Linked DNA regions of Homo sapiens. The protein of the gene in region 1 interacts with the protein of each later gene in a pairwise test. Each region holds a gene or a part of one and is shown in the gene's direction. Other genes may lie near its edges.

What was found.
Region 2: the proteins of TMEM218 (region 1) and FRMD3 interact in binary tests that used the Homo sapiens proteins (3 or more experiments, as listed by UniProt).
Region 3: the proteins of TMEM218 (region 1) and PIK3IP1 interact in binary tests that used the Homo sapiens proteins (3 or more experiments, as listed by UniProt).
Region 4: the proteins of TMEM218 (region 1) and SLC10A4 interact in binary tests that used the Homo sapiens proteins (3 or more experiments, as listed by UniProt).
Region 5: the proteins of TMEM218 (region 1) and NPFFR2 interact in binary tests that used the Homo sapiens proteins (3 or more experiments, as listed by UniProt).
Region 6: the proteins of TMEM218 (region 1) and DAGLA interact in binary tests that used the Homo sapiens proteins (3 or more experiments, as listed by UniProt).
Region 7: the proteins of TMEM218 (region 1) and CLDN2 interact in binary tests that used the Homo sapiens proteins (3 or more experiments, as listed by UniProt).

The regions. Positions count from the first base shown.
Region 1 is NC_000011.10:125,094,627-125,098,126, reverse strand, and holds part of TMEM218 (transmembrane protein 218), read left to right. Parts: intron 1-386; coding exon 387-521; 3' UTR 522-3,500. UniProt on the Homo sapiens protein: May be involved in ciliary biogenesis or function.
Region 2 is NC_000009.12:83,311,402-83,314,901, reverse strand, and holds part of FRMD3 (FERM domain-containing protein 3), read left to right. Parts: intron 1-1,154; coding exon 1,155-1,242; intron 1,243-2,926; coding exon 2,927-3,015; intron 3,016-3,500. UniProt on the Homo sapiens protein: Putative tumor suppressor gene that may be implicated in the origin and progression of lung cancer.
Region 3 is NC_000022.11:31,289,689-31,293,696, reverse strand, and holds the start of PIK3IP1 (phosphoinositide-3-kinase-interacting protein 1 isoform 1 precursor), read left to right. Parts: upstream 1-1,208; 5' UTR 1,209-1,352; coding exon 1,353-1,422; intron 1,423-2,400; coding exon 2,401-2,517; intron 2,518-2,612; coding exon 2,613-2,732; intron 2,733-3,997; coding exon 3,998-4,008. UniProt on the Homo sapiens protein: Negative regulator of hepatic phosphatidylinositol 3-kinase (PI3K) activity.
Region 4 is NC_000004.12:48,481,986-48,486,142, forward strand, and holds the start of SLC10A4 (sodium/bile acid cotransporter 4), read left to right. Parts: upstream 1-1,357; 5' UTR 1,358-1,576; coding exon 1,577-2,166; intron 2,167-2,946; coding exon 2,947-3,157; intron 3,158-4,157. UniProt on the Homo sapiens protein: Transporter for bile acids.
Region 5 is NC_000004.12:72,030,764-72,034,799, forward strand, and holds the start of NPFFR2 (neuropeptide FF receptor 2), read left to right. Parts: upstream 1-1,236; 5' UTR 1,237-1,437; intron 1,438-4,036. UniProt on the Homo sapiens protein: Receptor for NPAF (A-18-F-amide) and NPFF (F-8-F-amide) neuropeptides, also known as morphine-modulating peptides. Can also be activated by a variety of naturally occurring or synthetic FMRF-amide like ligands.
Region 6 is NC_000011.10:61,718,391-61,721,890, forward strand, and holds part of DAGLA (diacylglycerol lipase-alpha), read left to right. Parts: intron 1-346; exon of another isoform or gene 347-615; intron 616-1,721; 5' UTR 1,722-1,765; coding exon 1,766-1,860; intron 1,861-2,288; coding exon 2,289-2,500; intron 2,501-3,500. UniProt on the Homo sapiens protein: Serine hydrolase that hydrolyzes arachidonic acid-esterified diacylglycerols (DAGs) to produce the principal endocannabinoid, 2-arachidonoylglycerol (2-AG).
Region 7 is NC_000023.11:106,926,902-106,930,401, forward strand, and holds part of CLDN2 (claudin-2), read left to right. Parts: intron 1-1,149; 5' UTR 1,150-1,327; coding exon 1,328-2,020; 3' UTR 2,021-3,500. UniProt on the Homo sapiens protein: Forms paracellular channels: polymerizes in tight junction strands with cation- and water-selective channels through the strands, conveying epithelial permeability in a process known as paracellular tight junction permeability.

The DNA.
Region 1 (3,500 bases):
TGTATGTTTAAAATTCTCCGTAATAAAATGTATTTTAGCAACAACAAAAATGAGCCTTTCTAGGACCATGCAAAAGCTTCTCATTAACTCTTTCAGGTAACAGATTTCAGAATATAAAAGAATTCATCCAGGGACTTCAAAGTGTTTACCAACATCCTAAATTGAGCCATTTGTTCCCTGTCCCTCATTAATCCCTTCTTGTGTCTCCTGCTCAGGGAGTTGAGGAAAAGATTCTTTTTTCTCATGTACAGAGGAGACTCAGGGCAGGATGTTACTGGAAGTTATACACATGAACTAACTCTTGGCCCACTCATCATGGAGTTCAGGTTAACCCAGCCAGGGTGTCTAACTGGTAGTAATTTCATTTTGATGTTTTCTTTCTCCAGATTGTGGATGACTTTTTCATTGGCCGCTATGTCCTGCTGGCTTTCCTTAGTGCCATCTTCCTTGGAGGCCTCTTCTTGGTTTTAATCCATTATGTTCTGGAGCCGATCTATGCCAAACCACTGCACTCCTACTGACCACTCTTCAGGAAAACGAAAACCTGTTCTCTCCTTCATTGTGATGACATTGATGAGCAGGAAGGCACTATTCAGAGCCTTGTTTTGACAGCCCTCATGCCTTAAGGTTAGAGGAGTATCTGTCCATCACTAAGACAAATCTCTGGAGTCCTGGCTTCCAGAAACAGGATTGCCAAATTGTCCCTGTGGGGCTAGATTCTTACCAGCTTAAGAAGGATATTGCTATCTTCTTAGTACCCGTACCTTAGGATTTCCAACTGTTTTGAAAGGGAAATAGTAACAGTGATCTGCTTAGAGTGGATTTTCACTCAAGTCCTTAGTAAGTGGATTTTGGGGAAAAAAGCACCTGGGCTTCTGGTTCTTTTTGATAATATATAAAATTATTCATTATGAGGTTGCAGTTGTTTGCAAAGGAGAGGCACTCAAATTTGAAAGGTTATTTTAATGTGATAATTTGGAAGACTTACTCAGATGTTGGTCATTGACCACTCTGTGCATATATTTCTGCAGAGCTCTGTGAAGGCAATGAGTGTCACTTCCCTCTGCTCTAATAAAGCAATAAATAATAGCTAAAGGGCTGACTTTCACTTCGAACTCTTGGCCACGGCTTTTTAATCAAGTTCTTTAGGTTTCCTTGGGATTAGAGGAAAGGTATGGAAATATTGTTTTTTGTTTTTTGTCTTGCCATGTATCTGTAGGTTTTTTTCTTCCATGATGTGGTGGGCTGTGTGTGCCTTATTTAATTACCATGAGTCCATTTTGGGGTGTCTTCACTTTTCATCTTTGTAGCCCTTTCTCCAAAGCTAGTGAGGAAGGTATATTCTCAACATCAGATATAACTCTATACCTGTCTGATCTCCCAGACCAAATGAAATTTGCATTAAATGGAGGGGCCCTGGTCAGGTTCCACTTTGGAAGTCTGATCCTGACTCCCTAGAGCCATTTGAAAAAGAATCTTCTGGCTTAAAATTAAGAACCAAGAAAACAAGTTGGAAAGAGATCACTGATGGAGTATGTGCTCTATGCCAATAGCACACTAATTCCTTTGAGGTTTAATTTATTTAATTTTTACAACGGTCTCATTTTTATCATCCCCACTTTAAAGTAGAAAAAATGGAAGCTTAAAGAGATCAGCTGACTTGCCCAACCTTCACCTAACAGCCAGTGTGCAAACCCAGGTGTGGTAGGCCCCAGGGCTTGTCTCAGAGAGAAAACACACTAGGGTTTGTGGAACTCTGATTGAGAGCTTCAGGTAGGTTAAGGCCACACTGTTCCTTCACTTTCTCTCCTCAATTCTGTTTTCAGGGTAGAGAAGTTACCCAGTCCTGCCACCCCACAGGCAACTAAGCTCTAAATTCCAAGAAGAGAGAACAGGTAACCACTGAGAGTCATGGGCTGGTGAGGGCCAGGTATAGTTATCCCTACATTGAACCATTTCCTTTATCTTACTTAGTTTGGAAAAACTTTGCAGATAAGGCTTTGTACAGAAAACTTCAAAGGAAATAGTTTCCTAATCTGGCCTAGGGCACACAGGTAAGAAAAGAAGAAACATCCTCTAAGCAGATTGAGGGAGAGAAAAAAGAATGCATAAGTCTTGAGGGAATTGAGACAAGCTGGGGGCCTCATGCTATTGTGAGTCTCCCTGCAGCCCAAGTGGAAGCTTGGCTCCTAACAAGCACAAGCTGCCAATTGTTACCTTCTTCTGAGAGCCTTGCTAAAAAAGTAACTCTGGGAAAACTCTTATAGGTTCCTGACCATGAATCCATCTTTTTTATTCCCCCCAAAAGTTATTCAACTATTAGATCAATGGATAATAACTATGAGGTTTTGGGTGACTATTTAGATGGAGGAAAGTGTATTAAGGTTGGAAACTAAATTCTATCCTTAATACTACTGTTTTCTAATTTTTGTTTTTTTGCCTGATGTAAATGAAAGGCATATATGTTAAAGATTGGCTTTAGGAAAAAAAAAAAAATACCCTGTGCAAAGTTTATTTCAGCTTGACTTGACCTACAGTCTACAGACCTGGAGTCTATAATTACCAGCTGTGGTGAAATGAATGATAGATTTCTTTCTACCTGCATACTCAATGCAGTTATGCAAAAAAAGCCCCGCAGGGTTGGGATAAGACGTAGAAGGCTGAGAGGGCTCAAAATGGATTTCACTGAGAGTTTGGCATGGGATAACCCTATAGTCAATGTCTGTTATGGTACCCTGTATGCTCATGGCCTTCTTGGAGACAGGGCTCAGAGGTCATTCCTTAAATACAGACAGAAGTCATCTTAGTGTTCAGAACCATTCTGTGATCAGTGGCCTTAGAACATGTTCCCTCTACTGTTCCCTACCCAGAGGGGATCCTGTGGCAGACTGGTGATCCCCACTGTTTAGAAGGTGGAGAGGGAGAGTAAATCTGGGTTTCTATATAAGAAAATAGGTTATTTCGTGGCGTCTTAAAATTGTATCCTGACAAAAGCTGAATTAGGAGGATACCACCCTATCCCCACAATGGAGATCACAATGGGTAATTTGTTAAGTTCCTTAAATTTTTCACTGATAAAAATGGAAGTAAAGCTACCATTCTTTGTGTACAATGTAAATTTAATGTAAAACTGCATCAGAATTACCATACCAATGTCCAGGGACTAGGGAGTACATAGCCATTCATTCTCGAATCCTGCCATTCATTCAGCATATATTGTGTGCCCGTAGGGTGTAAAGCACTAGTCCTGGTGGAGTAAGCCCATGGAAGAACTAGGCTGTAAGGTGTCTAGACTGTCTTCCTCACTGCTTCCTGGAAGGAGGGCATCCAATTTATTTTTAAATGTTTTTATTCTAACATAAAGCAATCCATTTTTTGTTCTGTTATTTAACAGAAACTTTAGTATCAACTCTATTTCATGGTTGTTGCAGTTGAAGTGTTTCTGGTTTATTTTTTGCTCAATGTGTAAAGAAACCTGCTGTGATTATTTTACAGATGAG
Region 2 (3,500 bases), on another chromosome or scaffold:
TCAAGACCCATTTATTAGGGCCTCTCAAAGGAGATAAGAGAGAGAGTGGGAGAGAGAGAGAGTGGTGGAGGAAGTGGGGAAGGGAAGAAAAGAATCAAGAAATAGTCAAAGAAAGATATGCATTGTTGGATTAAAAGGATCTACACTGTGCGGATCATGATGAATAAATAAAGATGCTCCCTAGACATACCACAGTGACTTCAGACGTATCAGTGTAACTCCAGTGCACTAAAGGTAAAGAGATTGTGAAGGGCTCTAGGAATAAAGTAGATGGGATACTGTTTTGATTTAGAGGTATGATGACTCTTTGCTATCTTGAGGGGGTGGGGGGACAATCCGTCTTTGGGAAGGAAGTTAAGTGGAGATAGATTTAATATTGCAATATAATTTTACATTTTGAAAATAAAATGAATTCCTGTTGTTTTCTCTGCTTGGTTGCTAGAATTACATAAATATCCTTGGGGAATGATTGAGATTCTCTAAAATACATGTAGGATATTAATATTAGTCAAAGTGGGGTCTTTGAAATGTTGCATAGTCTTTCTTTAGATGTTAGCCCTGAAAGGGCTTCGCGGTCATCTATATTTGCAGCCCTTTTCTCCCTGAGGCCAAGACCTTGTTTACCACCTCGCAGGACAGTGCTAGGACTAGTGGTTGAGATTTCCTTTTGAAGTCCAGGGCTCTCTGTGGGATGGTTGACAATTCTTTTGGCCTTGATGGCTCTGTTTAGGCTTGTTGATGGGGTAACAGGATTGTGCATTTTTTTCCCTGAGCAAGAAGGCATGCCATTTAACCTGGATAATGTTTTTAAATTAGCAGAAAGAACAGATGATTAGTTTTATTTCGTATTAAGGTTGAATTTGCAAGGGCCTGCTTATTGGTAACTTGATAACCTTGATTAACTGTACGGATCACTGGAGCGCTCAGAGTGCGTGTGGGTTTGTTATGGAACAATTAACTAGAGAACACAAGCTCGGGTTCCTTAGTAAAGGACTCCTTGTGGTGAGAAATAATGATCAGTCTTACTGATTACTATTTATGTAAGGGTTTTTCTCTTTATTTAGCTTAGAACACCATACTTTATTGAATGAAGGGATTCCGAGTTTCTATTCTTTTCCATTTTAACTGCCTCAACTTTTCTTGTGTGATTTTAGGGGGCAGAGCCCACCAGTTGCTGAATTTAACTTGCTCCTGAAAGCTCACACTTTGGAAACCTACGGGGTGGATCCTCACCCATGCAAGGTAACTGCCCCTCACAGCAGGTCACCATATAATGGTTGTTTTGCCCAAAAGAGAGTTTATCTGTGCGCAGGCCTGGCAGAGCCTTGTTAAATCTTTCCCACAGCTTGGCCCACGGTCCCTCATTGGAAGGGACAACAGTGGGCTGCTGTTACATGTTTTGGCAGCTGATTTTCTCCATTGGAGTCTTCCAATTGTTCATTGATTGCCATGTAGTAGCCATATTTTCCTAAATTAACATCCATGGATTCACTCATCAAATGGATGGTTTGGCCCCTGAGGAGTTACAGGCTCCTGACACATTTACTTTCAAGGCCATTGCCAGCAAGAATGGAGTCTTTAAAAAATGGGAAAGTGGAAGGAAAAAAAAGAAAGATTTCAAGTTGCATTTTGGCATTAGGAACACTTGTTTTTATTTTTTCCTTTACTCATATTTGACAGTGTTTCTCTCAAGGATGAAACACAGACTACTTATATCAGAATCTCCTGGACCTCACCCCAGAGCTACTAAATCAGAATTCTGGGGGTACAACTGGGGAATCTGCCTTTTTAATCAAGCTCCCAAGGTGTGATACTTATAGATACATTTTCCAGAAATGTTTCACTGAAGCAACGTTCTTCTTTCCATATATTAGACTATGCATCAGCCAGACACTAGTCCTAATCCTAAACTAAGCATTTTATCAGTTAGGCTCTTAAGTATAAGTTTTGGAGTTTTAGTGGCAAATTTCTTTACCCAGATTGGACTGCCTAATCTTATTTGGCAAAGCATTAGTCCTATAGGTCTCAGCTTGGGCTGCTCATTAGAAACACCTGGAGAGCTTCATTAGCACCTGCTGACCAGAACACATCCCACACCAATTACGTCAGGATCTGCTGGGGAGGAGGGCGGGGCGGGGCGCAGGGCGGCGGAGGGGGAGTGGTGGGTGCGGCGACCAGGCTACCCAGGTGTTTCCAATGTGCAGCCAAGGCGGAGAGCCAGGGGTACTTGTCCATACTAGCATTTACATCCTCTTGTTCTGCCTACGCAAATGTTGGAATATTTACCAGCGGCTCTTTCCTAGAATGGTACTAATCAGTTTATTCATTTTAGTGAATTTTATGCAGAAATTTGAACTGTATTTTATTTATTTCTTGGAGACTGACTTGATCTTTGTGTTGTTATTCCTTTGCCTTCACTTATCTACAAGATGCTTAGTTTTCCTGGTCTAGGCTGGAAGCACAGTAAGCTTTTCTGGAGATATTTTTATACTGAAATTTCCAGAAATCCTGTGAGAGATTGAATCAAAATTAGATGCTCAGGGCTTTGGTTTCATCACGTTAGAGTGCTAATGGCAAGCAAGAACAGTTTTCTCACATTACAAAGCAGACCTAGAACACAGGCAGCCCCGGAAGACACTGGGAAGTAGACATAGTGATTTGGGACTAATTCATATTTTTCCAGGAGGTTCCTAGAGGGCAGAAGGTCCGCTCCTCAAAGGGAAAAGCTACATATTCCTGAACTTCACCCAGACTTTGAAAGGCCTGCTCTTAGAAGTTCCATCTCAGAAACTTAGTTTATTGCTACAATCATTGGGATTAGTCTAAAATTAACCTAGGGTGAGGATGAATAAATATATTGGTTATCATTTATTTTATTTTTCTCAATCTAAACAGATTTTTCTTTTTTCTTTTTTTTTTTTTTCAGGATTCAACAGGCACAACAACATTTTTAGGATTCACAGCTGCAGGCTTTGTGGTCTTTCAGGGAAATAAGAGAATCCATTTGATAAAATGGTAAGTGCCTCTTTGGAAAACTGGCTTTCCATTTTTCTTAATCTTGATTCCTCCGTCCCCTCCTTGGCTTCTCGGGCAAGTGTCAGGTAGAATGCCTGGTATCCATTTCCTTGCCTTGGAGCTTCATCATAAAGGGATGTAACATCTAGGTTGCCTTTGGTGGGGACTTGGATTTGCCAAGCTGAGGAGTCAACTTAGGAGGCGTGGGCTCAGGGGCTCTGCCTTCAAAGAGAAGGTATCCAGTGTTTCCTCACCAGTAGCTTCTACTGCTGTGGCCAAGGGGGGCACACGGATGGGTCAGGGCAGGGTAAAGGTGTGAGTTCCCATGAACAACTCAGGATCCACTCTCCCCAACTCACTTCTTTCCACTCTTCTCCTCTGTTGAGTCCTGGGTGCAAACTCACCCTTTGTTATCCAGTGTATCCGTGAAGATGCTTTTGGCAAAAGGTAGTAGGAATGTCTACTCATGATGGCTTACAAATAAG
Region 3 (4,008 bases), on another chromosome or scaffold:
ATGGATTTCCTATAGGGTGAGGGAAAAAAAAAAAAGCAAACATTTTACTTAAATTCCTCTATACAATTTAGGGCTGGCAGAAAGGGTAGACTATTACAATGTAGCTGAGCAAATTTTTCCATGTTTGCATAACATGTGTTTTCAACTAAAGATACTCCTTCTATAGTCCTACTATATACAACACCCCAAAAAACCTCAAATGTAAGAAAAAGCAATGTGACAGATTTGACCCTGGCCAAGTTACACTGTTTTTTTTTTTTTTTTTTTTTTTTTTTTTTTTTAAGTGTCAGTGTTCATAAAGGCCCTTTTTCTTTTTCAAGGATGGGTATAAAGTGTTACTCGGCCGAACGCGGTGGCTCACACCTGTAATTCCAACACTTTGGGAGGCCGAGGCAGGTGGATTACGAGGTCAGGAGTTCAAGACCAGTCTGGCCAACACAGTGAAACCCCCGTCTCTATTAAAAATACAAAAAATTAGCTGGGTTGTGGTGGTGTGCCCCTGTCACAAGGTAGTCTTGACGAATCACTCTGCTCTCTCTCTCAGTTTACTGAGGCTGCCTGGGAGCTGTCAGCCAAACAGGAAGAAGGGCCCTTCTGCCTAACTCCAAAAGGCCTAAGTCAAATGGATATGGTGAGATTTAATGATGGATATAAATTACAGCAAATGGATTTCCTATAGAGTGAGGGAAAAAAAAAATCCAGCTACTCCGGAGACTGAGGCAGAATTGCGAGAACCCGGCAGGTGGTTGCAGTGAGCCGAGATTGTGCCATTGCACTCCAGCCCGGGCGACAGTGTGAAACTCTGTCTCAAAAAGAAAAGAAAAGAAAAAAAAAAAAACTATTACTCCACTCCCCACCAGAAACTCTTATTTTTTCCCCCCTATGTGGTCATGAATTCCTCCTGGGTGCATAGCTCCCTAAGTTGTTCTGTGTTTTAGTGCTTATAATTTCCCACATCCCATGATGCCCCTTGATAGAATTATTTTTTCTGTACTCACACAAATGGAAACAGAAGAGATGAAAAACCCTGGGGATGCGGCCTCGCAGGTCTCAAACTGATCGGCTGCTAAGCACAACCTGCATATCTCTTGGCTGAGTTCCTTTCTTGGCTCAGTTAGATTTTGCATGACCTAGGAGGCTTAGGACCCAGGGGGCGCCTTTCAGCTGAAAAACAGCTCGCGCTGCAGCAAGCTAGCTGGGAAGCTCCCAGTTCTAAAGAGAGGCTGTTTACCAGAACAGCATAACAAGGGCAGGTCTGACTGCAAGGCTGGGACTGGGAGGCAGAGCCGCCGCCAAGGGGGCCTCGGTTAAACACTGGTCGTTCAATCACCTGCAAGACGAAGGAGGCAAGGATGCTGTTGGCCTGGGTACAAGCATTCCTCGTCAGCAACATGCTCCTAGCAGAAGCCTATGGATCTGGAGGTGAGATTACAATCTTTCCTTTCCGCAGCAACTTCATGAAACAGAAGGGGTAAAGCCCCCTATTTCCCAAACAGGGCCAGGATGACAGGAAACGAAGCGTTTAGCCGGTTTCTGTTGTCCCGTGAAAGCTTTTCCACCCCTCCTTTCCTTGTCAGGGGCTTGCAGCTCCATCTTTGCCATTAAGAACAAAGGCAAGAAGCCACTTTCTCTCTGCCTTTCCTTGCTCATGAGTGGATGGAGCTTGGGGGTTCATCTCCCCTACTCCCCAAGTCCTGTTCTTTCTAAGCCCTTTGCATGGTGTGGTCCTCCTTCCCCAGCCTCCTTCTGTGGTTCTCCTGCAGAGGGGAGTGGGAGCTTGGAGTCTCATCCAGTCAGCGATGAGGCCGGTTTCCTCCGTTTGAGGCTGTCTTGAATCTTTTGCCTGACGGAGTCAAGGCTCCTGGAGAATTCTCCTGGGAGGGAGTATTTGCCTTTTAAACGGGCAGAAGGTGGCCGTATCCGTGAAGGAGGAAACACCGGAGTTTATGTAACGTGGCCATTACAACACAGGGACAAATGTCACGTCTGGGCGCCCCCCGTCCCAAAACTCCCAGCTCCTCAAAGGGACCCTAAGCCAGGCCTCCTCCTCTCCATCTCCTCCTCCAAAGTGGTCACAAGTTCAAGAGTAACAACGCTTTGCACTTCTGCAGCGCTTTCCAGGTTTCAAAAATAAATAAAACCTAACAGTCTCTGAGCGTTGACTGGGGGACAGGCACAGGCTGGGGGCTTCACACCCTGAGGTGTGCGTGGAGTTGGGGGGGGGGGGTGCGTGGGGCGTGGGGGTGTTGCCACGAGAGGAGAGGGAGGCCCAGCAGGGCCCGGGGTCCCCTAACCAGGCTGAGGTTCAGCCCGGGTGGTCCCGGCTCCCCTGTCCGCCACGCTGGGCGTCTTCCGTTCGCTGCCCGCTATTCTGTGTCCGGGGGCTTCTTTTCCTCACAGGCTGTTTCTGGGACAACGGCCACCTGTACCGGGAGGACCAGACCTCCCCCGCGCCGGGCCTCCGCTGCCTCAACTGGCTGGACGCGCAGAGCGGGCTGGCCTCGGCCCCCGTGTCGGGTAAGTGTCCTCCGGGGGACGGCCCCGGGGCTGGCGGGCGGCGGCCGCGTTCCCGGTGCCAGCCCCGGCACACATTTCCTTCTCTCCTCTCTTAGGGGCCGGCAATCACAGTTACTGCCGAAACCCGGACGAGGACCCGCGCGGGCCCTGGTGCTACGTCAGTGGCGAGGCCGGCGTCCCTGAGAAACGGCCTTGCGAGGACCTGCGCTGTCCAGGTACCTGCCCGGGACCCCGGGAATCCCCGCTCCTGGCGCTGACAGGAAGCGGCTGAGACACTCGTGGCGCACGTGCGGCCGCGCGATGCCGGCCGGCCCCGCTCCGCCTCCGCGCCGTCCGATTGGCCAGGGCTGTCTCCAGGCCGCGGGGCTCAAAGCCTATTGGCCGCCGCCGCCACTCGTATGAGCTCATCCGCCGCGAGCGCTTGTAAACAACTGCGCGGGGCGAGGCTGGGGTGAGGCTAGGTCTCTCCGCCGCGCGTCCTGAGGAGTGGCTTTTGGCCCCTCAGCGTTTATTGACCGTTTGCGGAGCGTCTGCAGTGTGCTAGACCCACACTGCTCACAACCCCAGCTCCCCAACCTCCCCTGACACACACCGCGGGAAGAAGTCGTTTGAGGCATCTGAGCTTCAGAGAAGTTAAGCGATTTACCAAAGGCAATGGCAGGGGACAGATTTGAATTCACGTTTCTTAGATTCCAGAGCGCAGGCTTTTTGCTCCCAAAGCAGCAAGAGAGTTTTCTAGGTTTAAATGGGATAATCAAAATAAAGCATTTATTTTTTATTTTTTATTTTTTGAGACGGAGTCTCGTTCTGTCACCCAGGCTGGAGTGCAGTGGCGCAATTTCGGCTCACTGCAACTTCCGCCTTCCGCGTTACAGTGATTCTCCTGCCTCAGCCGCTTGAGTAGCTGGGATAACAGGCGTGCACCACCACGCCCAGCTAATTTTTGTATTTTTAGTAGAGACGGGGTTTCACCATGTTGGCCGGGCTGCTCTCTAACTCCTGACCTCAGGTGATCCGACCGTCTGGCCTCCCAAAGTGCTGGGATTACAGGCGTGAGCCACCGCTCCCGGCACAAAGTAAAACATTTTACCTAAGGACTGGCACAGAGCGTACGCTTAGATGTGAGCTGCTCAAAGGAAGCATGGGTTGTTTCCTGAAGTAGAAGTGGGGGGAATCCCCTGCAGAAGAACGCAACCGAGAGGGGCCTTGGGAAATAGCAAGGATTTGGACAGATAAAGACGTGGGAGGTAGGAGAGAAGCCCTTCCCTACGGCCTTCCTCTCTCATTTGCCTTGTCCCTGAGATGGTTCAGCCCTCTCAGGCCTGATCTTACCTCTGGGGCAGAATTTGACTTTGGGTTGTGTGTGGGGGGAAATTCTTAGGTGACCCACCTTCATCTACCCTAACACTCAGGCCAGGTTCAGCTGTGGAATTCACTCAGGGCAGTCCCTGATGAGAGCTGTTTCCCACCTCATCTCCAGAGACCACCTCC
Region 4 (4,157 bases), on another chromosome or scaffold:
ACTGAAGTTTTTTTTTCTGGGTTTAGTGTTTTGGAAAAGTGTAAGGGTACATTATCCTCCTAGATTCTTGCAAAAGCTCTGCCCTCGTGGAATTTACAGTCCAAAAGAGAAAAAATAAATTATTTGTGATGAAGAGTGCAATATGCTTTGCATTTGCAAAGTCTTACTTTTCATAGTCTCCATCATCTTCATGAGATTTGGGGAGGAGGAAAGGCTCAGCCCACCCTTGGGTAATAGAAGTCACTCTGTGCCAGGACAGGAGTTAGGGAAAAGTTCCCAGATAGAAGAATTCACTATATCTTGGCTCCTTGTGAAAGCAACCCTGGGCTAAGACTGAGCCTTGATTTCATTCTAGAAATTCCTGTTGGTTTTTACAACTCAACTGACTATCACTTTATGGTCACCCCCAGGGAGCTAGATGCCTCCTTAACAGGCCCCACCTGGTTGGTAAGCAGCGAAATTATTTTCCTTTCTACATGCCATCTAGTGACTGACTTAAAAGTTGTTGCATCTCCATTCCTAAGAGCTCTGCTTTTGAATTGTTTTGGGATAAACCTGTCTCAAGCAGGGAATCTCAGCACTTTATTTCTTTTCAGTCCTTTAATCCTAATGCCAGGGCCTTACTCATAAAGCTTCGTAAATCTGTGGCCACTGAAATATCCTCTCTCCACCTGCCAATAACTTCTTAAACACACATTTTTCATGGAAATTGTTATTAGCCAAGCTCTTCTCTGCCCTCTTTAGGGACACATCGCCGTGCAGATTCAGCCAGGTACTTGTGGGTTCGGTTGATAAGACTGAGAATTCCTCGTTCCTCAGTTTCCTCGTTTGTAAAAATCGAGCTTGTAAAAATGGTATCTATCTCACGGCTTTGCTGTAAGAATCGAATGAAATAATGCACACGCACTTGCACAAAACCCGCTATATTATTATTACATTCTACTTTAAGACTGAAAATCATGCAAAAAATTGTTTGCAAATTCAAGCCAGATATCGTGTCCTGCTTACTAGAGAATCGCTCATATTAAGTCAAGCACCCCTCTTAGGGCTGCAGGCTATAGGAACAGTTTCTGCCATGAGCGTGCATCGATGAGGTTATCCACCCGCCCCCTCCACTTTGTGTGTCTGGGTCTCCAGATTTCATTATAAAGAGGCAGAGCCCATCAGAGAACTTGATCGGCAGCCAGGAACGGTTTTTTCCTGCTCTGGTCCTTTGTCAGGTCTTTGTTCCGCCCCTGGCTACACTCGATAACAGAACCACTTACTGGCGATTCACAGGAGGGGACCGGGCGGCAGGGCGGGGCGGGGCCTGCGGGGCGCGGGGCCGCGGCGCGGAGCCGGCGCAGCGATTGGGTTCACCCGGGGGGCCGCGCTGCGCGGAGTGCCAGGCTGCGGGCGGCTGCAGACCTGGGAGCGGAGACCGGCCCGCCGCCCCCGACGCCGCCGAGCACGTCAGCGGCGCGCAGCCGGGGCTCGGAGACCGACGGGCAGAACGACGGGCGGCGACTGCGGCGACCGCGGGACGGCGAGAGGCACGCGGCGGGAGGGGACCGGAATCCGCAGCTCCGGCCGCGCCATGGACGGCAACGACAACGTGACCCTGCTCTTCGCCCCTCTGCTGCGGGACAACTACACCCTGGCGCCCAATGCCAGCAGCCTGGGCCCCGGCACGGACCTCGCCCTCGCCCCTGCCTCCAGCGCCGGCCCCGGCCCTGGGCTCAGCCTCGGGCCGGGTCCGAGCTTCGGCTTCAGCCCCGGCCCCACTCCGACCCCGGAGCCCACGACCAGCGGCCTCGCGGGCGGCGCGGCGAGCCACGGCCCTTCCCCGTTCCCTCGGCCCTGGGCGCCCCACGCGCTCCCGTTCTGGGACACGCCGCTGAACCACGGGCTGAACGTGTTCGTGGGCGCCGCCCTGTGCATCACCATGCTGGGCCTGGGCTGCACGGTGGACGTGAACCACTTCGGGGCGCACGTCCGTCGGCCCGTGGGCGCGCTGCTGGCAGCGCTCTGCCAGTTCGGCCTCCTGCCGCTGCTGGCCTTCCTGCTGGCCCTCGCCTTCAAGCTGGACGAGGTGGCCGCCGTGGCGGTGCTCCTGTGTGGCTGCTGTCCCGGCGGCAATCTCTCCAATCTTATGTCCCTGCTGGTTGACGGCGACATGAACCTCAGGTACGGATCTGTCTATTCCTTGGGCATCTGTCTCATCCCAGACGCGCGTTTACGGCCGTGGGCTCACGACGAAGGACAGAGGCAGTGGAGGGGTTGGAATTAGGCGTGGAGGAAGGAGGAGAAAAGGAGAGGAAGTTGATGACGCCCCGGCTTTAGAAGTCAAGGCCGACCTGCAGGTTGTGCTGCTAGGGGAGCAAGCTAGACGGCGAGGGAGCTGCTCCAAGGCTGGGATTCCATGCGCAGCGCGGCCCTTCAGCAGGGTCCCTCGCCGTCCTCCCCGAGCGTCGGGGTGGCAGCGCAGGTCGTTGTCCAGTGGAAGACAAAGAGAAGGGGGAGTCTGAACTAGAACTCGCCGGCAACGTAAAAGTAAAATAGGGCTACTGGCCCGTCAGAGAAAGTAATCTCACATAGAGTGCAGGATTGTTGAGTCCGACCAACAAGTAGCAGTCAGCAGCTTTACCATGGCTTACCTTGCAGGGGGCTTGCAAGGAAGAACGTTCCTTCCCCTCAGAATCATCCAGGCTCAATAGACTTTATAATGTCGAGGGCAGCAGTACCGAGACAGGGGGCTTGTTTTTCCTCCCTGCCTTGGGTTCATAATTCCATCGGTGTTAGACGTGCTGCTCTCTTGGCACTCTCCTCGGATGTAGGTTCTGCCCAGACTTCAACCCCGGGACTTGCAGTCTCCCCGTTCCACCTCTACTCAACATACAAGAAAAAGGTTAGCTGGCTGTTTGACTCAAAGCTCGTTCTGATTTCTGCACATTCCCTTTTCTGCAGCATCATCATGACCATCTCCTCCACGCTTCTGGCCCTCGTCTTGATGCCCCTGTGCCTGTGGATCTACAGCTGGGCTTGGATCAACACCCCTATCGTGCAGTTACTACCCCTAGGGACCGTGACCCTGACTCTCTGCAGCACTCTCATACCTATCGGGTTGGGCGTCTTCATTCGCTACAAATACAGCCGGGTGGCTGACTACATTGTGAAGGTAAGGCCCCCTCTTCCCTTTCCATACTAGCTTGGAGAGCCCTTGATCTCTGACCCACAGCAGAAATGTTAGGAAGTTTGGAGAAGGCGGAAAGGAAGAAAAGGACTTGGAAGTAGTTGCATGGATAAAATTTTTTTTAAAAAGTTTATGCTACAAAGATAACTTCCACTTTTGGGATTCCTAGAATGACAGCTTTAATTAAGACACAGCTTAATCAAAACCAGCATAAGAGAACTATCAGTACTCATTGGAAGGAAACAGATCATAGCAGGGTGGGGAAGATGACAGTGTAATTAAATGGCAACATATTTTCCACTAATTGTATATAATTAAACATAAAAGCAGATTAAATAAAATTACTTTAATAGAATTGGTGCAGTATTTTAGAAATGCATGGCTATCTTTTCAAAAATGGAACTCTAATTCTGAGAAACTCTGTAGTAGGTTCCTTTAACATTTTATTAAATTTTTAAAAGTAAGTTGATACTAATAGGACAAAAAGTAATGGAAAAGTTACATTGTAGTAATAGAACACACAAAATATTGGCTTTAAAGCACAAAATAAAATTGGGTCCTGGATAAATAATGGAGGTTATGTTGACCTTACTAAATGTGTTTCTTTTTCTTTCTCCATTGCAATATTTTATATGGCTTATAAAGCTAGTGAAAAGATAGGGGATTTCTATAATTTGTGCAATATTTCTCCTAAGGCTTTGATTTTTTAAAAAATGAATGCTTTCTGTAGCAGTAGAGATTTTAATAGTTTAGTAGATTCTAGTAGTTGACTGGAGGAAAAAAAATCTTTGCAAAATTAAGCTGTCTTTGAAAATTCAAAAACAGTAGCAAAAAAGAATAAACCATGACCAGGATGCTGACTTCAGGTAATTAATCAAATAAAATACGTAACTATTACTGCAAAATGCACAGGCAAATTCCTTTAGACAAATGAAGAGAAAAAGAGCCACCCTAATGTTTCAATTATGTAGATTCAAGAAGACAT
Region 5 (4,036 bases), on another chromosome or scaffold:
TTTGAGAATTTCAGGTTGAATACAAAATGCTTTTCTCTTCTTAGTTTTATTTTACCCAACTAACTTATTATTCTATCCTATGACTCCTGTGTTATCTCTTTAACGTCTTTTTCTTTTCTATGACTTTCTGTGCCTTGAGTATCCTGATAAACTTTAGAGAAGTGGGACCAGTATCCTTACCTTGAACTTGGTAAAGTCTTGGGAGAAATACGCCTCAATTTAGTCATTAAACACACACACCACACACACACACTTGTCAAAATCTGCAACTTTAATCCAAGACCAAGGAATCCTACTTTAAAAGGTCTGTCTCACCATAGGCTTTTTTTCTGTATTCCACGTGTACCAGTGATATAGGCAGAGAAATGTAGCAGATAAAGAAATGAATTTGGCTTCTGGAGCTTTTCTTTCATTTAAATACCACCTCTGTAATCTTAGACAAGTCACTAAACCTTGGTGCCTCTGTGTGAATTGGAAATAATTATATATCAACTCTTCACAAACCTAGAGTGCTATCGTGAGGATTAGGTCTAAAAGGCTCCTCACAGGTTTCTCATGCTTAAAGCACCTTTAATTATCCCTTTCTTAGTAATTGTATAAATCTCTAAGTTAATCCATTAAAGTCTAGTCATCATCTCTCTATTAGCAAGACCCAACTGGGCAGATAGTGTTGTTAGGATCATTGTGAGTCTCCCCAGGGTTCTTCCCCTTCCATTTCTGATTATGCTGTGAATATATTTCCAGAATTTCAGAGGGGTTTGCTTGCAAGCTAAAAGATCTTTGCAAAGGCTCAAAAAATACGGTCTGCTTCAGACAGAGAGAGGGTTTGCAATATGCGATGAATCTCTCAGTCCCATTAGAACCTTAAAGATGATGATAGCTCACATTTAATGTAATGATTAATGTGTACCAGGACCATTCCAGGCACTTTTGCATGTAGACAAATAATTCTCAGATTACTTACTGATTAATATCATCATCATCTCTATTTTACAAACGAGGAAACTGAGGCACAGAGAGGCTAAATCACTTGCCCAGGATCTGGAGCCAAGTAATGGTGATACTGATGCTTCCTTTTCTTTGCCGCGCTCGGATTCTGAGTTTCACAAGAATGTACCTGGGTGCCCCTTAGCGGGATATGAATAGCTTCTTCGGAACCCCAGCGGCCAGCTGGTGCCTCCTGGAAAGTGACGTCTCATCTGCACCGGACAAGGAGGCGGGGAGGGAGCGCAGAGCACTCAGCGTCCAGCAGCGCGGCGGGCCAGCCTGGAGCGGAAGCCTGGAGTGGAGCAGGCAGTCCGCGGGGGACAGACGTCGGCTGGGATTGAGCCGGCAGACTGCGAAAAGTAGCTGGAGCCGGAGCAGGGACAGAACCTGTTGCTGCAGACGGGCTTGGTGGATTCTGGTTCCTGCCGCCGACAGGGCTCGCCGGGAGAGGTAACAGCATGGGCCAGTTTGTCTGGGGGCCCCCGCTTGGGGGCGCGACCCCTCTCTAATGCCCAACGCTTGCCTTGATGACACATATTAGCGATTGTGGACCGACACCTTGGATTTTTCAAATCCCTTCCTAATTACACAGGCACCCGCTTGGTCACTGGCCCAACACTGGGGGGCTTCTCTGCCCTGGATGTCTGCACCACAGATGGCTGTGGCCCCAGGCTTGCAGAGCAGGGACCTGGTCAAGGGATGTGGGGCGCTTTCTTCACCTTAAAGTTCCCCCCAAGCCCTCTCCGGGGCTGTATTGTGTTGTAACTTTGTTGAATTTCCTTAGCGGGTCTGAAGCTAGCGAGTTTCTAAACTGTTTTTATCCGTGATGCTTCTAAGCAATGATCTTTGTGTATCTGAGGCTTCATCTTGTGCATTTCCACTTGCTAGAAAAGCTGAAATCAGGTTTCTGAGCTGCGTACAGGACACCAGAGTCCTTATTGAAGGCGTTTGGAGAGGTTTTATCCCCTTCTGGGAGTGAGATAGGGTTTCCAGACAATACCATTTTAGTTCTTCTGTCAAACCATCAGGCATTTTCCAACAGTGCCGCCCTAGGTCAAATTTAGGGTCTGGAGGAGAGGAAAATGATCTTCTTCAAGCTGTCGTTCTAGTTAAAGACAGAACTACTAACTAAAAACCAAAAATACATTTGTTCATCTCCCATTTCCCCTCAGCTATAGTGTAGATATTTGAAATATTTATTTCTTTTTAAAAAATCTTAATGATAACATGAATTATACAAAGATGCTGGTTTCCTTTTTTTAATCCAAATATTCAAAGTTGTTTTAAACATATGTCTAAATTTCTAATTCCATTCACATCCAAATAACTTTCAAGTGGGAACTACTAATGAGAGGAAGGATGGAAAAATCAATGGTTTGTAAACTGTGAAGGACATATTTTTGTTTCCATCTGGATTTCTAATTAAACCATAATAAATTGAGTAAAATTATCATAATAATGATGAATCTAAGTTATGGATGAATTTGCAAAATGGCTATAATGTGCTCAAAAATAGTGCCATTATCATCAACAGAATGGCAATTGTATGCAGAGTTCAATTAGAGTCTTTCATCTGTTAAAAACTTCTATAGATCGATCATTTAATAAAACAGTGATGCAATATAGTGCAGTAACAGTACCTACTGCACTATATTTAAAGGCACATATTAACATTACAGACTGGCTATTGTAATAATAAAAAAATGTGCTTTCTTTATTGCTTGAAAATAACATGTTACTCATATATCATTATCCTATTCTTTTTCTCAATATGTGTTTTTCCAAAATCCATACACCCCAATAAGATCTTTCTACTAGCCATGATTTCTTCATGTCTATAGAAAACTTCAGAGCATTTGAGGCTTAAGCTTATTTTTGCTTCATCTATCTGTTTGTCTGTTTCATCTGGCAGTTTTATTCTTGGTGCATTTTGTGAACACATTACAAAGTATCTAAAATTATATATTAGAAATTCATTGTTTTATTTGTATGATTATTTTATCCCATAGTTCCTATAAATCATACTGCTCACCAATACTCTCTTTTACAGATGTCAAAGACTATAGGTTGAATAAATATGAATTCACTATAAACCAATGAATGATTTCTTCCAGAAATATCAGTTTATTTATTGTAGTTGTTCTTCGGCTCTGTGTGTGTGTGTGTGCATGTGTGTGAGTGAGTGTGATTTTTTATGAGAATTCCATGCAAATGCCTCTGTGATAAATATTTATAAACCTTTTCACTGTATTGCATTAAAATGGATTTCCAGCTGTAACATGGAACACAAAATAAGGACAACTTCATGCCTTGAAGCTTCAGATACTTAAAAATAATAATTTTGTAAAATACTGCCCTCCTTATTATGGAAAAAAGGACATTGGTTTTAGCTAAAGACTTCAAAACTGTCAAGCACATTCAAAGAAAATGGAATAAATATAATCTCACATTCCTAAAACACATCTGGATTAGTCTATTCTCATGCTGCTATAAAGGACTGCCTGAGACTGGGTAATTTATAAAGGAAAAAGATTTAATTGACTCAAAGTTCTGCAGGGCTGAGGAGGCCTCAGGAGACTTACAATCATGGCAGAAGGGGAAGCAAACACGTTCTCTTTCACGTGATGGCACGAAGGAGAAACGCCAAGCCAAAGGGGGAAAAGCCCCCTATAAAACCATCAGATCTCATGAGAACTCACTCACTATCATGAGAATAACATGGTGGTAGCTGTCCTCATGATTCAATTACCTCCCACCAAGTCCCTCCCAAGGACACATGGGGATTACAAGAACTACAATTCAAGATGAGATTTGGATGGGGACACGGCCAAACTATATCAATATTTATATAGTATTTTAATAATCTTAACAAATTGTTCTCTTAAACATATGAATTTTATGCTTACCATTAACCTGATGTTAACAGCTGATTTTCTTTTCCTCTCTGTTTCCCTTTGATTTTAAGTTCCAGCTTTTTGGATAAGTTGGTTCTTAAATGAATTTTCCAATTGCCTTGAAACTGAACATTAAGGGTCCAGGGAGACCTTCA
Region 6 (3,500 bases), about 63 Mb from region 1:
TACCCTCTGTGAGCTACTTGGAGACAGGGAGGGGGCGGCAATACCAGCTGTTGGCAGCTCTGTTCTGCCCCAGCCCAACTGCCACCCACGGTGCCCCAGCCCCCCCTCCTGTCCTATCGTGTCCAACCCTAATCTGAAGCTGGTGCTGTCAGCCACATGTCACAGGCACTGCTGACGCCCCGGACCCCTGCAGTCCACAGACCACCCCCCACCCCCAAAGCCCAGCCACCCCACCACCATGCTCCCTCACTCTCCACCCTTCTCCCTGCCTCCCAGAAGCTGAGCTCCGACTCCTCCTTGGAGAGAGAGTGGGATGATGTCACTTCCTGAGGGTGGGGGGAGGAGTAGGCACGACCCCGGCAGGCTAGCCCGCCAGCCCGCCAGGCCACAGCTCGCCAAGTGGCTGCACCGGGGATAGGGAGGCGGGCCGGGCGGACATGCGGGCTGGCCACCTGGCCCCACGCCCTCTCGCCCACCCTGGGGGCTATGCCCACTGGCCAAGGGAGACTTGGCTGCTTCCTCCCCGAATGATGCCGGGCTCCTCGGACACACATTTTCCCTGGAGCCGCCACTGGGGAGAGGAGGATCTGCCGCCTGCCCCGGACCAGGTGCCATGTAAGCCTCTACTGGCCCCCGGCGGGGGACAGCTGCCCACCAACTTGGTCCCCAGCCCCCTGCAGCAGTTTAGTGCAGAGCTACCCTGGAGCCCTTTATGGGTATCTCTGGGGACCTAGCTCCCTGTGGGGTCACCTCCCACCCATGCTGCTTCCTTTCTCTTTGGGATGCTAAGGAGTGAGGGCCCTGAGTTCCTGGGCACTCTTTCCTGAGCTTGCTTGGGGCTGATTTGAATTCAGCTACTTCAGAGAGTTGAAAATCCAGCTGGAAAAGCTGCATGGCTCAGGGTGGGCTTGGGAGGTATGGTTGCCAGGAGGGGTGTGACCCTGCAGGGCTTACCCCATCCTTCCAGCAGTGTGGGGTGGAAGGTGTCCCAAGCCCTACTCCTGACCCTGCACCTCAACCGTGCTCTTCCCTCCCTGGAGGCATAGCTGTGGTGGGGACTTCTGTCTGATGGGTTCAAAACCAAGTCATAGAGCACGCTCTTGGCTTCCAGCAAAGCAGGAAACTGAAGCCTTCATTCAAGAAATACTTACTGAGCACCTGCTCTATGCCAGGCACTCCTCACCTTCCATGTTTGTCAGTCCCAGCTGCCAACCATACAGGGTCCCTTGCCCCCACCTTCCCAAGGCCTTCAGCCTTCCTCCTGCCCTGCTGGGCTTTGTGCTGTTGGGTGGGCTTGTTCTTGGTCTGGGAAGCCCCTCCCTTGACTCCAAGGACAGTGTGCACTGGGCCAGGTCTAAAGATTATAGGGTTTGAGGGCTGGGCTGAGGGTCCCACTGATCCCATGAAGGAGGAAACGGGGTCTTTAATAGAGCTCAACAGTGACTGCTGGGGTAACCCCAGGTAGAAGCCGATCCCTAGTGGCCAGTACCAGTCTCGGGGGACAGGAGAGACTCCAGGGGGAAGGCTGAAGTCTGTGTCCTGCTGCTAAGGTCCTTTGTGTTGGCTCCTGCCCGGAGGTGGGTCAGCACTTCCAGTGGCCAGCTCCAAAAATGCCTGTGCTTCTGGCCACACCGGGGACTGGTCCCGTGGCCCAAGGAATGCAGTGGCCCTGGGTGCCTTCACCTCCTCAGGCAGCTATAAGGTCCTCTGCTTTCTTTCAGGAGGTGAGCACCAGGCCCACTGAGCCTCTGCAGAGCCACCAGCCATGCCCGGGATCGTGGTGTTCCGGCGGCGCTGGTCTGTGGGCAGTGATGACCTCGTCCTACCGGCCATCTTCCTCTTTCTCCTGCATACCACCTGGTGAGTCCCCAGGCCCGGGGCCACAGGCCTGGGTTTGGAGAGAAAGGTCTGGAAGGACGCTTTCTGGCCATTTGTTCCTCCCTGCTTGGGCCCAAGTCCCAACCCTGTCATGCCCCCAGCTGCCCGGAGGAGGTGCCTGAAACATCTAGCCCCTTAGGGCAATGACACCCCTGCTACCATTGCTGGACCTGACCCCAACACTGGGGGGAGTTGCTGCTACTGTCTCCCCATGGCTGACCCTGAGTCTTTTACTGGCCGCCCATGCCCTTCTAGGCATTCGATGCCAGGTGGACAATGGTCTTATGGAGGAGGTGCCTGCTGCCAGCCCTCCTTCCACTGAATCTGGGCTGGGGAAGGGCCTGCCTGCTAGTAGCATCTCGAGGTACAGGGGCCACCTGGCCTTGCTCACACGGGCGTTCCTGTGACAGGTTTGTGATCCTGTCCGTGGTGCTCTTCGGCCTGGTCTATAACCCGCACGAGGCCTGCTCCCTGAACCTGGTGGACCACGGCCGCGGCTACCTGGGCATCCTGCTGAGCTGCATGATCGCTGAGATGGCCATCATCTGGCTGAGCATGCGCGGGGGCATCCTCTACACGGAGCCCCGTGACTCCATGCAGTACGTGCTCTACGTGCGCCTGGGTAAGGGCCACCCACCCTGGGGTGCTGCCCCAGACAACTCCCACCTCTCCATTCACTCAGCCAGTATTTACTGCGCACATGTTGCGAGCCAGGCCCTGTTTTAGCACTGGGGTACAGCAGTGAACTAAGGCCTTCTGTAGCTTACATTCTAGACTAGGGGCCAGCAAACTGCAGCCTGAGGGCCAAATCCAGCCTGCTGTATGTGTTATTAAATAAGGTTTTAGGCTGGGTGTGGTGGCTCATGCCTGTAATCCCAGCACTTTGGGAGGCCGAGGCAGGTGGATCACAAGGTCAGGAGTTCGAGACCAGCCTGGCGAACATGGGGAAACCCCGTCTCTACTAAAAATACAAAAATTAGCCAGGTGTGGTGGCACACGCCTGTAATCCCAGCTACTTGGGAGGCTGACGCAGGAGAATCACTTGAACCCAGGAGGCAGAGGTTGCAGTGAGCCGAGATTGCGCCACTGCACTCCAGCCTGGGTGACAGAGCAAGTCTCCATCTCAAAAAAAAAGAAAATAAGGTTTTATTGGCACATATCCATTCAGTAAGGTATTGTCTCCAGCTGCTTTGCCCCTACAGCAGCCGAGTTGAGTAGTTACTACAGCGACTGTAGGACTCCCAGAGTCCAAGATATTTGCTCTCTGGCCCTTTACAGGAAAAGGTGCTGACCCCATCCTCAACCATGTGCATCTCTTCAAAGCATATCTTCCTTGTGATCCTTCTCAAAACAGGCCTTCTGCTTCCTGGGAACCCCCTCAGGAGTCTGGGCCAGCTCCCCAGAGGACCAGCCTGTGTCCTCTTCTTGGGCTTAGGTTGCAGCCCCTTCTGGTCATTTGTAGTGAACACTGCTCTTGTGCTTCTGTGCACTGGGCTAGGCCCTTTTTCCTGTGTTAACTCACAGGGAGTGGGTGTTATTGGTCTCCGTTTATAGATGAGGAAACTGGGGCCCAGGCCTAGCTCTCACACAACTAGTAAGCGTGTAAATGTCGGAGCTGGGAT
Region 7 (3,500 bases), on another chromosome or scaffold:
CACACACACACACACACACACACACACACAAACTAGCCAGGTGTGGTGATGCGCTCCTGTAGTCCCAGCTACTTGTGGGGCTGAGGCAGGAGGATCACTTGAGCCCAGGAGGTCGAGGCTGCAATGAGCCGAGATCATGCCACTGCACTCCAGCCTGGGTGCCAAAGTGAGAACCTGTCTCAAAAAGAAAGAAAGAAAAATTAGTGGATCAGAGGGTCTTGTAGAGAATGGGGAGGTGTGCCCTTGACCCTTAGTGTCCTGAATCTTGGCAACACCGAGGGCTCCTTGAACACGGCAAAATCTTATATGGCTCTGAGATTCCAAAGCATTGACTCAGATACCTGCCTCATGCAAAGCCCTATATTCTAGAGCAGTTTCCCTTTCCTCTGTGGCAGACTCTTGTCCCCCCTAACAGATGGCCCAGGGAATTTCAGGGCCCCCTCTCAGTCCTGGAACCCTTGTTCCAGAGTGCTCCCTCATCATCCAAGAGGCTGATGATGGGAGCATCTATTAGGAGACTGGACAGGAAATGTCTGGGCATGTTATACATGCAGGAGGCCTTAGACTAGGCTGCAGAGGGGGATTTGGGCATGGCTGGGAGGATCTGAACTCTCAGAGTATGGACAGAAGGCTTTGCTGCCCACCCCCATCTACCCTGGAGTAGATTTTCACCATGGGCAGAATGATCCAGGGCTAGGCCACTACTCTCTAGGCCCCTGGAGATTCAAGAGGCCTCTAACAAACTGGAGTCCAAGACTACATTCTAGGATCTGTTCCTCCTGATGTAGTCTGCAGTTTGGCCTCAGTCTGCAATTGAGGGGCCCTATGGCACTGTTGCTTGGCAATGTATTAAACAGCAGGCCTTGGAGACTAGCACTTGAGTTAACACAGCCACCACAACCACCACTGCCATCATCACCTTCCCGGAAAGCAGCCACCTGTCTGGCTCCTGGCTTTGTCCAGCTGCCAACCTAAGGCATGTGCCTACGCAGGAGGCGATGACATTTTGGCTCCACGTTCAAAGTTGTTTTTTTTTTCCTTTCTCATGTGTTATTTCTAAAGATAACAAAGGTCAAAAGGCATCCAGCGTTTTCTGGTTTCTCATAAGCTTCTGGTCAATATTTAATCTGGTTTATGGATTTTTTTTAGGTCTTCTAGATGCCTTCTTGAGGCTGCTTGTGGCCACCCACAGACACTTGTAAGGAGGAGAGAAGTCAGCCTGGCAGAGAGACTCTGAAATGAGGGATTAGAGGTGTTCAAGGAGCAAGAGCTTCAGCCTGAAGACAAGGGAGCAGTCCCTGAAGACGCTTCTACTGAGAGGTCTGCCATGGCCTCTCTTGGCCTCCAACTTGTGGGCTACATCCTAGGCCTTCTGGGGCTTTTGGGCACACTGGTTGCCATGCTGCTCCCCAGCTGGAAAACAAGTTCTTATGTCGGTGCCAGCATTGTGACAGCAGTTGGCTTCTCCAAGGGCCTCTGGATGGAATGTGCCACACACAGCACAGGCATCACCCAGTGTGACATCTATAGCACCCTTCTGGGCCTGCCCGCTGACATCCAGGCTGCCCAGGCCATGATGGTGACATCCAGTGCAATCTCCTCCCTGGCCTGCATTATCTCTGTGGTGGGCATGAGATGCACAGTCTTCTGCCAGGAATCCCGAGCCAAAGACAGAGTGGCGGTAGCAGGTGGAGTCTTTTTCATCCTTGGAGGCCTCCTGGGATTCATTCCTGTTGCCTGGAATCTTCATGGGATCCTACGGGACTTCTACTCACCACTGGTGCCTGACAGCATGAAATTTGAGATTGGAGAGGCTCTTTACTTGGGCATTATTTCTTCCCTGTTCTCCCTGATAGCTGGAATCATCCTCTGCTTTTCCTGCTCATCCCAGAGAAATCGCTCCAACTACTACGATGCCTACCAAGCCCAACCTCTTGCCACAAGGAGCTCTCCAAGGCCTGGTCAACCTCCCAAAGTCAAGAGTGAGTTCAATTCCTACAGCCTGACAGGGTATGTGTGAAGAACCAGGGGCCAGAGCTGGGGGGTGGCTGGGTCTGTGAAAAACAGTGGACAGCACCCCGAGGGCCACAGGTGAGGGACACTACCACTGGATCGTGTCAGAAGGTGCTGCTGAGGATAGACTGACTTTGGCCATTGGATTGAGCAAAGGCAGAAATGGGGGCTAGTGTAACAGCATGCAGGTTGAATTGCCAAGGATGCTCGCCATGCCAGCCTTTCTGTTTTCCTCACCTTGCTGCTCCCCTGCCCTAAGTCCCCAACCCTCAACTTGAAACCCCATTCCCTTAAGCCAGGACTCAGAGGATCCCTTTGCCCTCTGGTTTACCTGGGACTCCATCCCCAAACCCACTAATCACATCCCACTGACTGACCCTCTGTGATCAAAGACCCTCTCTCTGGCTGAGGTTGGCTCTTAGCTCATTGCTGGGGATGGGAAGGAGAAGCAGTGGCTTTTGTGGGCATTGCTCTAACCTACTTCTCAAGCTTCCCTCCAAAGAAACTGATTGGCCCTGGAACCTCCATCCCACTCTTGTTATGACTCCACAGTGTCCAGACTAATTTGTGCATGAACTGAAATAAAACCATCCTACGGTATCCAGGGAACAGAAAGCAGGATGCAGGATGGGAGGACAGGAAGGCAGCCTGGGACATTTAAAAAAATAAAAATGAAAAAAAAACCCAGAACCCATTTCTCAGGGCACTTTCCAGAATTCTCTCATATTTGTGGGCTGGGATCAAGCCTGCAGCTTGAGGAAAGCACAAGGAAAGGAAAGAAGATCTGGTGGAAAGCTCAGGTGGCAGCGGACTCTGACTCCACTGAGGAACTGCCTCAGAAGCTGCGATCACAACTTTGGCTGAAGCCCCTGCCTCACTCTAGGGCACCTGACCTGGCCTCTTGCCTAAACCACAAGGCTAAGGGCTATAGACAATGGTTTCCTTAGGAACAGTAAACCAGTTTTTCTAGGGATGGCCCTTGGCTGGGGGATGACAGTGTGGGAGCTGTGGGGTACTGAGGAAGACACCATTCCTTGACGGTGTCTAAGAAGCCAGGTGGATGTGTGTGGTGGCTCCAGTGGGTGTTTCTACTCTGCCAGTGAGAGGCAGCCCCCTAGAAACTCTTCAGGCGTAATGGAAAATCAGCTCAAATGAGATCAGGCCCCCCCAGGGTCCACCCACAGAGCACTACAGAGCCTCTGAAAGACCATAGCACCAAGCGAGCCCCTTCAGATTCCCCCACTGTCCATCGGAAGATGCTCCAGAGTGGCTAGAGGGCATCTAAGGGCTCCAGCATGGCATATCCATGCCCACGGTGCTGTGTCCATGATCTGAGTGATAGCTGCACTGCTGCCTGGGATTGCAGCTGAGGTGGGAGTGGAGAATGGTTCCCAGGAAGACAGTTCCACCTCTAAGGTCCGAAAATGTTCCCTTTACCCTGGAGTGGGAGTGAGGGGTCATACACCAAAGGTATTTTCCCTCACCAG